Homo sapiens: one gene and its partners. The protein of the gene in region 1 interacts with the protein of each later gene in a pairwise test. Each region holds a gene or a part of one and is shown on either strand. Other genes may lie near its edges.

Region 1 (2,830 bases):
AACTTTCACTGAGGCTTAAATATGATGAACAATTAACCAAATAAAGTTGAAATGTTTTATAATTGTCATTAAATCCTTGATATTTAAAAGGAGAAGCAGTATGGTTCTTAGAAAGCATTCATTCCCGGCCCAGGAGTGGTGGCTCACGCCTGTAATCCTAGCGCTCTGGGAAGCCGAGGCAGGCGGATCACCTGAGGTTGGGAATTCGAGACCAGCCTGGCCAACATGGTGAAACCCCATCTCTACTAAAAAATACAGAAAAATTAGCCAGTCGTGGTGGCACATGCCTGTAATCTCAGCTGCTTGGGAGGCTGAGGCAGGAGAATCACTTGAAGCTGAAAAACAGAGGTTGCAGTGAGCCCAGATTGCCCCACTGCACTCTAACCCGGGCGACAAGAGTGAAACTCCGTCTCAATTAAAAAAAAAAAAAAGAAATAAAAGAAAGCAAGAAAGCATTAATTCCCATGCACTGGTCCTGGAGAATCTATAATTCAGTCTTTTATCACAGGTTCACATTCCCTTATAAAAAGGTAACAGTTGGATGCATGTCTGGAGGAGCTCTTGGGCTTGTCCGATTGTATCTTTAACTTCTCATCTGCACCTTTAGCTATGGCTATTTGGGCTGTGCTTAGAAAATGGCCATACTCAGGGCACTGTAGAATGAACAGTCCTTCCTGTTTAGGCATTTCTCCTTCCACTTTAACTTCTGACTCTGTCTTCAGGGCATTTCTGTTATATTAAGCTTCTTAAGTGATGAGTGGTCTGGTGTTTGTGTTATGCAACTCAATTTAAGATAGGTTCATGTGAGATCTGGCAGAAAGCAGGCTGGGGTGGGGTGTGGAGATACTGAATATTGTGCATGTAGCATATGAAAGGCAAACATAAATTTAATTCAGAAACAGGCAATGTTTATTTATAGTTAAGGGTCAAATGAATTATACAAGGGACATATGACAAATAGGATGTAATTTGCTTCATTAATCCAAATGAAGGAGAGTAACTTTCTTTCTCCTCAGAAATACAGAATCACACATACTGCAATACTTCCAGAAATAAATCATCCACTGAGTCTTAAAAGTAAAGAACTCTGTGTTCTTGCTCTGGTGTCTACATAACCGGGATCTTATAAGTAAGCCAAAGACATCTAAATGGCTTTGCCTAGAAGCCAAGGCCATTGGTCCAACAAAGACATCTTGAGGTTACTGGAATGCATGGAGAATAATCGCCCATCTGATGACAACAGCACGTTTAGCTCAACTCAGTCACACATGGACTGGGGAAAAGTAGCTTTTAAAAACTTTTCTGGTGAAATGTGCAGACTCAAATGGTTAGAGATTTCTTGCAACTTGAGAAAATTCGGCACTTTGAAAGAATTAGTCCTGGAAGCTAAGAAATGTGTTAAAAAGATGAACAAAAGCCAAAAATACAGGAACGGTCCAGACTTTCCAAAGAGGCCCCTTACTGCTTACAATCGCTTCTTCAAGGAGAGTTGGCCCCAGTACTCCCAAATGTACCCTGGGATGAGAAGCCAGGAACTGACCAAAATCCTGTCAAAGAAATACAGGGAACTCCCAGAGCAGATGAAACAGAAATATATTCAGGATTTCCGGAAGGAAAAGCAAGAATTTGAGGAAAAACTTGCTCGATTCAGGGAAGAACACCCTGATTTAGTCCAGAAGGCCAAGAAATCTAGTGTCTCCAAGAGGACTCAAAACAAAGTGCAAAAGAAGTTTCAGAAAAATATTGAAGAAGTGAGGTCTCTTCCAAAAACGGATCGATTTTTCAAGAAGGTAAAATTTCATGGAGAGCCTCAGAAACCCCCCATGAATGGATACCACAAGTTTCACCAAGATTCCTGGTCAAGTAAAGAGATGCAACATTTGTCAGTGAGGGAGCGCATGGTAGAGATTGGCAGACGCTGGCAGCGCATCCCGCAGAGCCAGAAGGATCATTTTAAGAGCCAGGCTGAGGAGCTGCAGAAGCAATACAAGGTGAAATTGGATCTCTGGCTCAAGACTTTGTCACCTGAAAATTATGCTGCATACAAAGAATCGACCTATGCTAAGGGTAAGAATATGGCCATGACAGGAGGCCCGGACCCCAGGTTGAAACAAGCAGATCCACAGTCCTCATCAGCAAAGGGTCTGCAAGAAGGGTTTGGGGAGGGGCAAGGGCTCCAGGCTGCAGGAACAGATTCATCACAGACTATTTGGGTAAACTGTCATGTCTCCATGGAACCAGAAGAGAACAGGAAGAAAGATAGAGAAAAGGAAGAAAGCAGTAACTCTTCAGACTGCAGCAGTGGAGAAGAAATAGAAGTTGATGTCTGAGGGCAGTGGCTCTAGTGCAGCTTCCTTGTTTTTTTTTTTTTGTTTGTTTGTTTTCTTTTCTTCCTTCCTCCCGCAAAGTAGGACAGGTTGGGAAGAAAGAAGCAACTTGGTGCAGCACTCTCCTACATCAAGATTATGAACCTGGGAGGAACTCTTTGGGAAGAATAAATATAAGTTTGAGCCAATACTGGCCTTATCCTTAAAAAAACAAACAAACAAATATCATCCCTTTCCCGAGGAACTTTATGCAATTAAGGCTTCTGAAATGAAGAGATGATTACGTTGTGGGGTACACACTGTATTAGACTGAATATTTCTGAAGCAAGAAGCTTTGCTTTACTCATTTTTGTCCTGCCAAAGGTGGTAGGGGGATACCCATAAGCCTGGGACCCAAACTTCCCTGTGGAAATGTTTTTCAGGACTCCTGCACTAAATCTAAGGTCGGGGATATTTGATGAAAGGTGGGGTAGGTGTCTTAAGAGAATTGTCCCACTCTTGAT
Region 2 (3,500 bases), on another chromosome or scaffold:
TGCTCTCCCAAGAAAGGGGTCTGTGTTCTAATCCCCAGAACCTCTGGATCTACTCCCTTACATGGCAAAAGGGATTCTGCAGCTGTGAGGAAGGCAAGGATCCTGACATGGGGGATGATGCTGGGTGGGCCCACTGTGATTACAGGGGTCCTTATAAAAGGGAAACAGGAGGGTCAGTTCAAAGAAGGATGGGATGAGATGAGAGAAGAAGGGAGCGTGTGTGTAGCAGGGAGGAGATAACATACAGAGAGACTGGAAGATGCTGCCCTGCTGGTGTTGATGATGGAGGAACAAGCCACAGTCAGGGAAGGCTGGTGGCCTCTACAAGATGAAAAACGCAGGAAATGGGTTCTCCCCTAGAGCCTCTAGAGCAGTGGTCCCCAACCTTTCTGGTACCAGGGACTGGTTTCGTGGAAGACAATTTTTCCATGGAGCACGGGGCGGCAGTGGGGCTGGGCAGGGAATGGTTTCAGGATGATGTTTTATAAGCACATTACATTTATTCTGCACTTTATTTCTATTATATTACACAGTAATATATAATGAAATAATTATACGACTCACCATAATATAGAGTCAGTGGGAGCCCTGAGCTTGTTTTCCTGCAACTAGATGGTCCCATCTGGGGGTGATGGGAGACAGCAACAGATCATCAGGAATTAGATTCTCCTAAGGAGTGTGCAATCCAGATCCCTCACATGCAAAGTTCACAATAGGGTTTGGGCTCCTATGAGAATCGAATGCTGCCACTGATCGGCCAGGAGGTGGAGCTCAGGTGGTAATGCGAGCAATGAGGAGTGGCTGTAAATACAGATGAAGCTTCGCTCACCTGCCACTCACATCTTGCTGTGCAGCCCTGTTTATAAGCACTGGTCCGTGGCCCAGGGGCTGGGGACTCCTGCTCTAGAGGGAATGCAGGCCTTCCAGCTTATTGAGGATTTCTGACCTCCAGCAAGGCAAGAGGATAAATGTGTGTTGTTTTAAGTCCCTGAATTTGTGGTAGTTTGTTATAGCATCAATAGGAAACTAACATGCCTTTCACATCACACCTTCCCTTTGGGTGAGTTCAGCAGACCCAGGCAACTGCTGCAGAACTTCCCTACCCTCTACAGGGGGAAGTATCTCCTTTTTCCCCGTAACAGACCTAATGTGCAGGTAGGCACACAGTAGTTCCAGTCACTGAGCTGGGGAGTGAGGGGGGGTTGGCCTCCAGCCAGCTCACTGGGCCTCCAAGAAAAAAACAAGTAGAGAAGGTACCTGGGACATTTTCAGGCCCCAAGTCCCTATTCAAGGCTGTCTGGAAGCAGAAATTTCCCACTAGGACAGGAGGGGTCTCTTCAGTTTACAGATCCTGTGACACCTGCCCTGCCCTGGATACAGTGCTGGAGGATGGTCACAGCAGATGGGCCACTCTATGTCAGCTGCCCAACACAACTTCTGGTGATGATGGAAATGTTCTATAATTCTGCTCTAATACTTGAAATGTGACTAGTATGGCTGAGAAAATAAATTTTATTTTTTTTGGGAGCAATCATCTGATTCCTAAACTACCTCCAAACACCCCCTCTTTTGCCTCTTAAATGTCTTCCTTCTGAATCCTGAAGTCCTTGTTATCTGCATGCTTACACTACATGCAAATTGCATCACCCTCTGGCCCACAACTCTTTAGTGTCTTCCCACTGGCCTGAGAACAGAGTCTGAAGTGAGGCCTAGTATGGTTCTGCCTCCCTCTTGATCTTGGTCTTGGTCACACTTCTTTCCCTATTCTTTTTTTTTTTTTTTTTTTTTTTTGAGGAGTCTCACTCTTACACCCAGGCTGAATGCAGTGGTGCAATCTCTGCTCACTGCAACCTCAGCCTCCCAGGTTCAAGCAATTCTCTTGTCTCAGCCTCCCGAGCAGCTGGGACTACAGGTGTGCACCACCACACCCAGCTAATTTTCGTATTTTTAGTAGAGACGGGGTTTCACCATGTTGGCCAGGCTGGTCTTGAACTTCTGACATCAGGTGATCAGCCCACCTTGGTCTCCTAAAGTGCTGGGATTACAGGTGTGAGCCACTGCGCCCAGCTTCTTTCCCTGTTCTTGTCTCGGCTTCAGCCATCCCTGTGTTCCCAGTGCAGGGAGCGTGGCAGCCTCTCTCCTGCTGCAGGGCCTTTCCTTACACAGCTTCTTCGACGGCAGTGCTCTCTTGGACATAACCCTGTCCCCTCACTCTAGTCGAGCCCTATGACTAGCTACATCTGACCCCAACTTGGAGATGGAGCAGCAATTCCCTTTTTCAGGGGCCTGTGAACCCCAAGTGGGAAAATAAAGGAAAATCCTGAAGTTCCTTTAAGGGAAATTCCGAGCATCCAGCTAGCCCCAAAAGTAAATATGGAACTTGTTAAACAGGAAGGTAATAGTAACCTAAAACAACAGCCAAAGAAGTTAAGGCTCCAGAGATGTTCGCTTTCCCCATGGAAACTAAAGATAACATCTTAACATGCGTCCCTGAGTTGCCTTTCAGAGGCTGGGACTCCCACTGAGGACCCCACCAAATGGAGCTGCTGGCTCAGAGACCCCAGATAAGCGGGACATGAAGGCTGAGCTTCAGCGTTCTTTGTGCTAAGTTTCTTCTTGAGGGGCTTGGAGAAAGTCACTTCTCCCAGCCAGTTAACATTTTCCTACTGACTCTAAATTTTTAAACAAAGCTTCTTTTCTTTAACCAATTACAAATCAGAAAAATCTTTGAATCTACCTATGACAAGCTCCTGCTTCAAGACATCCTTGCCCTTTTAAGTCTAAACCAGTGTGTAACCTCCATGTATTGCTTTATGATTTTGCCTGTAGCTTCTGCTTTTCTGTAACTTACCATTGCCTTCAGAAATCCTTGCCTAGCCGGGCACGGTGGCTCATGTCTGTAATCCCAGCACTTTGGGAGGCCTAGGCAGGCGGATCACCTGAGGTCAGGAGTTTGAGGCCAACCTGGCTAACATGGTGAAACTCTGTCTCTACTCAAAATACAAAAAATTTGCCAGGTGTGGTGGTATGTGCCTGTAATCCTAGGGACTGGGGAGGCTGAGGCAGGAAAATCACTTGAACCTGGGAGGCAGACGTTGCAGTGAGCTGAGATCGTGCCATTGCACTCCAGCCTGGGTGACCAAGTGAGATTCTGTCTCATTAAAAAAAAAAAAAAGGCCGGGTGTGGTGGCTCATGCCTGTATCATCTCAGCACTTTGGGAGGCTGAGGCGGGTGGATCACGAAGTCAGGAGATTAAGACCAGCCGGGCCAACATGGTGAAACCCCGTCTCTACTGAAAATACAAAAATTAACCGGGCATGGTGGTAGGCGCCTGTAATCCCAGCTACTCAGGAGGCTGCGGCAGAACTGCTTGAACCCGGGAGGCCGGGGGTTGCAGTGAGCTGAGATTGCAACACAGTACTCCAGCCTGGGTAACAGAGTGAGACTCCATCTCAAAAAAAAAAAAATTCCTTGCCTAAAAGCCACTGGGGAGGCCAGG
Region 3 (3,500 bases), on another chromosome or scaffold:
GTGAATGGGGGAGTCAAGCCACAAATTTCCTCTTTAGGACACAAGAAGTGCATTCTCTGTGTCTGCCTCCCTGCCTGCCCTCTTCATTGCAAGGCCAGGGCTCCTGCACAGAAACCTTGGGTGAGCAGCACCCGCATGTCCTTCTTTGCTTGTAAGCCACCTCTAGGCACCCTTAGATAGCTCACCTGTTCCCACCGTAAGTCCGCAAACCACTTCTCTCCCTAGGAACCAAGCCATCTGGGAGCTCTCCCTGCTCCCTTTAATCCTCCTGCCTGTACTTTACAAATGGTACAAGTGGCAAATGGCCCCCAGACTTGGGAACAAACAAAAACCAGGTGGGCAGCAGCAGCAGCAGGAGGAGCAGCAGCAACAGTGGCTGCAGCTACTTAAGCAGCAGTAGGCACCCTCCTGGGCCCAAGTGGATCCTGTCCCTCCTAAGGGGGATGGGTGGGGCTGTCCTCGCTGTCCATTGGCTGGGAGCTGGGCACTGGCAGGCACGTGGCTCACCCCATCCCTCTCCCTCCTTCCCTGCCCACCCCACCCATTCCCGCTGCTAAACCCGCCTCCTTTCTCCCACCCCAGGGCCGGTCTCCGTGGCAACTTGGTGTGGTGGGGGCGCTGATTGGCTGACCTCACTGTCAGGTCACAGGCTCAGGCTCGTTCACCACGCAACTCACACAGGGATTGGGCAAGGGTGGGTGTTTAACTCCTTAGGCCCAAATCCAATGCCCATGGCCAAGAGGTAGCAATGAAAGAGGGGGAGAGGCAGAGGACATGTGTGGGAAGGAGAGGGTGTTCATAAGCTTCTCTAGCTTCTGGGAAACTCCCCTAACCCTTACCCAGGGCTCTAACACCCATGCCAATATAGGTGCCACCTGGAGCTATGGTGGTGCCAACCAGGCCAAGGGGCCCTCCTAGACCCATCATCTGGGAGGGATGGGTGGGGCAAAGGCCTCCCCCTTCTTTCTGCCAGGGCAGGGCACTGGTGCCAGGGTGCCCACCCTACCTTGGGCACCTTTCCCACCTCTGCATCCCAGAGGGCCCAGTCCCCTGACGCCCCATGAAGGCGGCCCATCCCCACCCAATCTGGCATGCCCCCTCTTGCTAAGACCTTGTGGGCATGGGTGTGTGTGGTGGTTGGGGGTGCAGCTGTGCCAGGGAACCGGGCAAGGTCTGTTTGGTCTGTTTGCCTGGTAGGGGGAAGAACTGGGGGCCCCACCCCATCACTCCCCTCTTTCCCGCCACCCCCCCAGGCTCCCCTCACTGTCAGGCCTGCTAGACCGGCCAAGCCGGTGGGCAGCTCTCTTGAAACTGGGCCCTGAGTCAAGCCTGCCCTGTCCTTGGTTGGGGGAAGACTTCAGGGTGAGAAAGTTGGGAGGGGGTAAAGGTGGGAGTGCCTATCACCTACCCTTCAGTGCTCAAGGGCACCTGGCAGGGTATGTCCAGCACCAAGAAACCAAAAGGTGGAGGCCACTGGCCTGGTCTTGGAAAGAAAAGGGAGATGGGAACTCTTTCCGGGTGCTGACCTCAGGCAGGGTCCAGTGCAGGGCTGGGGGCCACGAAGGCCAACACTGCTGGCTTGAGCCAGCCGAAGGGCAGGGATAGCAGGCCCTGAACAGGGCAGCTGAGTAAAGCTGACCCCCCTTTCCCCCACCCTGGGGATTAGGGGAGTGAGGCTTAGTGTGGGGGGCAGCAGGCGGAACCAGGATTAGCAGCAGAGAAAATAGATATGGGCCTGGGACACAGGCACGCAGAGCCCCCCCTCCCCAGGTTCCAAGGCCCCTACCTCTAGGCTCTGCCAGGGAGCCTGAGAGGGGCCTGGCCAGGCTTCTCCAGGAGCAGCAGCTTGGGGTGAGGGAGGATGAGGACCAGGCTGTAACATCTTCCTGCCAGGGATGATGGAGAGACCTGAGGCTCTTCCCAACGCTCCTGGTGCCTTGGCTGGCCACCCCTCCCCCTTACTTCTGTCTCCTTTCTCCCTCCACCCCCCCACCCCAACTCCAGCCTCAGGTTCTCTTCCTGTTTTTTTGGAGCTAAGTTTGCACGAAGCCATGGCTTTGGCCTGCGTCTGGACCAGGGGGGTGGGGAAATTGGACAGCCAGTCCAAAGTCCTAAGGGACCCAGGAATCCTTGTTCTCCAGCTTCCCCCACCGCTTCCCAGGGCCTCTGGGGCCCAGGAGCTGCAGCCATCTGGATTGCCCAGTTGGGGAGGGAAGGTAAAGGGGCTGAGCCTCTTCTCACATGAGGACTAGAAGGGCTTCAAAGAAGAGGTTCTCTGCCCAGGGATGCTCTGACATTTATGGAGCCCTTCTCTCCCCACCCCAGCCCCTCCAAGCTTGTGCATGCCTTCCCCATCCCCCATATGACGCTTCCCCCTCCTAACCTCACCACCCCCAGCACTCACACTTCCTGGGGGCCGAGGCGGGGAAGAGAGACCGCAAGCCACGAAGGGGGAAGGAGGCGAGGGGAGTTGGCTGCTTCCCGGTGCTGTGGGGGTTAAGTCTCTGCCCAGCTCCAAATCCCCCAGTCCTGGTTCTGGGGCTCCTGAAATGAGGGAGACCTTAATGCTTCCCTACATTTTCTTTCCATGACACCAGCCCTTGCCCATAGCCCCTTAGTCCCCATCAAGGGAAATATGAGGAAGATAAAAGATGGCGGAGGAAGGAATGGGGGCAACTCTCTCAGCCTTAGCGCCGCCACCTTTGGGTATTCCCTGCCATCATCCAGCCCTCACTCTTGCCCCTCTCTTGGCCTCCTGGTTCTGTCCCCTCATTGCCTCCTCCGACCCTTGTCTTCCCTCCACAAGTCCACCCTTTGCTTTCCTTCCTTCAGCCCTCCCTGAACTCCGCATCCTCTCCACCCCATCAGTGTCCCTAGGCCTCCTCCCAGGAACTGTCCCTGCCTCTCCTTTCTCTTCCCCTTGGTTCTCTCTTGCTCAAACTTCTCCACTTTCTCCATTGGCCCCCTGCTCCAACCATCCATTCCCTTCTTCCCAGGCATATGAGGGGTGGAGAGCCGCAGAGGAATTAAATCAGGGACCAGGCCTGCCTTCCAATGCCTGGTCTTGCCAAAAGATGGTTGAGTTTAGGGCACCCACACCCCACTTTTGGATGAAGCAGGGGACCACAATTTGGGAGCCAGTTGGGGAGAATGAGTGGTGGAGGGGGGTTTGCAGCGAGAGCGGATGTGGGGTGGGGGTGGGGGGACAACCTGTGCCTCTCTGCCCGTCAGAGTTTCCAGCCCTGGAGCTGCTGGACTTTCCCCGGAGGGTGCCCACCCTGGACCAGGCAATTGTCCACTTGGACAGACTCTGGCCATCAGGATTCTCAGCAGGGTCTGCCTGGACAGTGCCAGCTCCCCTTAGGGCCTGAGGAGACCGCACAAGGTGCCAGGGTCTGCCCTGTGCCCACCCCCTCCCCCCCAGCCTAGTGTCTCCGGCTGGGTAACCGAGCTGGCTGGTAACCCCACACCCGCCAAGCCGCCAGCAGAAACCTGAGCCC
Region 4 (3,500 bases), on another chromosome or scaffold:
GATTATGGCGGTATTCTTTTGTTACATAGAAAAAATTTTAATTTTTATGTTTGATGTGTTTTTACAAATCCTTTTTTTTTTCTTTTTTGAGACAGGTTCTCTGTCACTCATGCTGGAGTGCAGTGGTGCGATCACGGCTCACTGCAGCCTCAATGTTCCAGGCTTAAGCACTCCTCCTTAGCTTCCTGAGTAGCAGGGACCACAGGCATGCGCTACCATACTCAACTAATTTAAAACATTTTTTTTTGTAGAGATGGAATCTCACAATGCCTGTCTCAGCCTCCCGAGTAGCAGGGACCACAGGCATGCGCTACCATACTCGACTAATTTAAAACATTTATTTTGTAGAGATGGAATCTCACAATGTTACCCAGGCTGATCTTGAACTCCTGGGCTCAAGTGATCCTCCTGCCTCAGCCTCCCAAACTGCTGGGATTACAGGCATGAGCCACTGTGCCTGGCCCCACATCTTATATGATACTTGGAAAGAACTTCCTCACTGTGAAGTCATAAAATAACTTCCCCATTTTTTTCTAAATTTTTGTGGGTTTACCTTTTTACATTTAAATATTTCCTCCATTTAGATTTTTTTTAGTGCAAGGTATTGGGTATGGATCCAGCTTAATTTTTCCCAGATCTGGAAATAATCCCTCTTCCCCATTGGATTATCACTTCTGTTTTAATTTTTATAATAACCATTGACTTTCTTCTTGCTCTGTGCCTGGCACAGTGCTAAGCACCCTGTAAGCATCATATGCTTTTGTTTTTGTTGTTGTGGTAGTTGTTGTTGTTGAGACGGGGTCTTACTCTATTGGCAAGGAGTGATCTCGGCTTGGCTCACTACAACCTCTGCCTCCCGAGCTCAAGTGATCCTCCTGCTTCAGTCTCCCAAGCAGCGGGGTCTACAGTTGTGCACCACCACACCTGACTAATTTTTGTATTTTTTGTAGAGATAGGGTTTTACCATGTTGCCCAGGGTGGTCTCAAACTCCTGGGCTCAAGCGATGGGCCCATCTCAGTCTCTCAAAGTGCTGGGATTATAGGCATGAGCCACTGTGCCTAGACAGCACCATGTTAAAATCCTGACATCTCTGGAAGTAGGGATTATTATCACCATTTTACATGTGAGGAAATCAAGGCTCACAGAAGTACATTGTCTTGCCCAAGGTCCTCTGGCTGGTAATTGGTGGCAGAGCTAGGATTCCAACTAGAGCTTTTTTTTTTTTTTTTTTTTTTTTTAAGACAGAGTCTCACTCTATCACCCAGGCTGGAATACAGTGGCACAACCTTGGCTCACTGCAACTTCCGCCTTCCAGGTTCAAGCGATTCTCCTGCCTCAGCCTCCTGAGTAGCTGGGATTACAGGTGCCCACCACCACATCTGGCTAATTTTTGTATTTTTAGTAGAGACGGGGTTTCGCCAAGTTGGCCAGGCTGGTCTTGAACTCCTGACTTCAGGCTATCCGCCTGCCTCAGCCTCCCAAAGTGCTGGGATTACAGGTATAAGCCACCATGCCCGGCCTCAACTAGAGCTCTTAAGGAACACACAGTACAGCCTACTTTCTTCTCCAAAGGTCAATTTCTGATTCTGAAACAAGGCTGACTAGATACACCAGGCTGTATGTCTGATGGGCTTTTCCTGATCTTTTGGTCTACCTTGGCAGGCACAGTGTAAGCCTAGTGGGCCCAGTGGTTGGAGTCCTAAGCAGCCGGGACCCCAGATACACTCCCTTTGTTGGGGCAGTCTGTCTGCCAGCCCTGAGGACTCCCCAAGGCTAGTGGGGGCTGAGTGGCCTTAGCATTATGCTTGCCATTCTTCTGCCTAGAATACTATACCCCCAGATAGCCCAATGGCTCACTCCCTCATCCCCATCAAGATTTGACTTAGGAACTGCTCTTGGTTGATGCATCTCCACTGGCCCACAGCTTGGTCTCATTTATTCCCGTGGCTTAAAATACCATCTATATAAGCTGATGACTCCCAATTTTTTTTTTAATTGAGACAGAGTCTTGCACTGTCACCCAGGATGGAGTAGAGTGGGCTCTATCTTGGCTCACTGCAACCTCTGCTTCCCGGACTCAAGCAGTTCTCCTGCCTCAGCCTCCTGAGTAGCTGGGATTACAGGCATGTGCCACCATGCCTGGCTAATTTTTGTATTTTTAGTAGAGACGGGGTTTCACCATGTTGGCCAGGCTGGTCTTGAACTCCTGATCTCAAGCGATCCGCCCCCTTCAGCCTCCCAAAGTGCTGGAATTACAGGCATGAGCCAACGTGCTCAGTGATGACTCCCAAATTTGTATCCTCAGCTCAACCCTCTCTTCTGACTTCTATCTCTTCTGACCTCATTTCTAAGATGTAAGCTCCATAACGACAGAGATTTTCTGTTTTGTCCTGAAACCATGCATGACACACAGTAGACATTCAAAAAGTATAATATTTGTTCAGTGAATTAAAAGGGTGAACCCCTGGGGGTCTCTTCTCTGCCCATTCCATGGCGTTGCCAGAAGCAGTCAAGGAGAGGAAAGGAAGGCAAAGAGAAGGGAGGTTTGGCAACTCCTCTTAGGGGCCAGAAGTGAAGCCACTTGGCTAGAGAGTAGTGGTGGCAGACAGTCTCATTGCATTGTCCCTTCTTTCCCATTTGTTTGTTTCCTGTTATTTCTGCACAGTCTCTTTCCACTGTCTTCTTGCACTGTTACCTGGCCAAGGGGAAGGCAAGGTAGCAGAGCTGTGTGTGCCTTCTCATTTTGCCCAGATGGGAGTGCAGGGGGCTTCTGGCTAACCTCCCCTGCTGCTGGATAACCTCCCCTGCTGCTGGTTGCTCTTTAGGGTTGGAGCTGGCTCACTGCTCAGGACTCTGGGCCTTCCCAGACTGGGCCCCAACGGAGGACCTACAGGACACTGAGAGACAGCAAAAGAGAGTCCGAACTATGTTTAACTTGGAGCAGCTGGAAGAGTTGGAGAAAGTGTTTGCAAAACAGCACAATCTGGTGGGGAAGAAGAGAGCCCAGCTGGCAGCTCGGCTCAAACTTACAGAGAACCAGGTGGGAGTAGGGACTCCTATTGGGCCTGGGCTGCACCTGGGGACAAACACTACCTCAGCAAGGCCCTAAAAGGAGGGTGGGAGGAAGATATGGGCCCTCTTCCCTGTGCCAGGCTGTTGAGGGGACAGGCCCTGACTTTTTGCACACTCTATATAATGAAAAAAAAAAGTCCCATTTGAAGTCACATAATGTGAACAACTTGGAATGTTAACTTAGATTATTAGTCTAAAAATTGATAATAAAGGATTTCCATGCTAAATAAGGACCTGCCAGTAAAATTAAGTAGATGTGGCCAGGTGCGGTGGCTCACGCCTCTAATCCCAGCACTTTGGGAGGCTGAGGTGGGCAGATCACAAGGTCAGGAGTTCAAGACCAGCCCAGCCAACATAGTGAAACCCTGTCTCTACTAAAAATACAAAAAAATCAGCTGGGTGCCTATAATCCCAGCTACTTAGGAGG

The links. The genes of interacting proteins can lie anywhere in the genome.
Region 2: the proteins of UBTFL1 (region 1) and ZNF558 interact in binary tests that used the Homo sapiens proteins (3 or more experiments, as listed by UniProt).
Region 3: the proteins of UBTFL1 (region 1) and ZBTB7B interact in binary tests that used the Homo sapiens proteins (3 or more experiments, as listed by UniProt).
Region 4: the proteins of UBTFL1 (region 1) and NOTO interact in binary tests that used the Homo sapiens proteins (3 or more experiments, as listed by UniProt).

What each region holds. Positions count from the first base shown.
Region 1 is NC_000011.10:90,084,802-90,087,631, forward strand, and holds UBTFL1 (upstream-binding factor 1-like protein 1), read left to right. Parts: upstream 1-1,148; coding exon 1,149-2,330; downstream 2,331-2,830. UniProt on the Homo sapiens protein: Essential for proliferation of the inner cell mass and trophectodermal cells in peri-implantation development.
Region 2 is NC_000019.10:8,825,805-8,829,304, forward strand, and holds part of ZNF558 (zinc finger protein 558), read right to left. Parts: intron 1-3,500. UniProt on the Homo sapiens protein: May be involved in transcriptional regulation.
Region 3 is NC_000001.11:155,009,302-155,012,801, reverse strand, and holds part of ZBTB7B (zinc finger and BTB domain-containing protein 7B), read right to left. Parts: intron 2,545-3,500; coding exon of another isoform or gene 2,405-2,544; intron 2,342-2,404; exon of another isoform or gene 2,054-2,341; coding exon of another isoform or gene 1,787-2,053; intron 1,226-1,786; exon of another isoform or gene 186-1,225; intron 1-185. UniProt on the Homo sapiens protein: Transcription regulator that acts as a key regulator of lineage commitment of immature T-cell precursors. Exerts distinct biological functions in the mammary epithelial cells and T cells in a tissue-specific manner.
Region 4 is NC_000002.12:73,205,574-73,209,073, forward strand, and holds part of NOTO (homeobox protein notochord), read left to right. Parts: intron 1-2,826; coding exon 2,827-3,041; intron 3,042-3,500. UniProt on the Homo sapiens protein: Transcription regulator acting downstream of both FOXA2 and Brachyury (T) during notochord development. Required for node morphogenesis.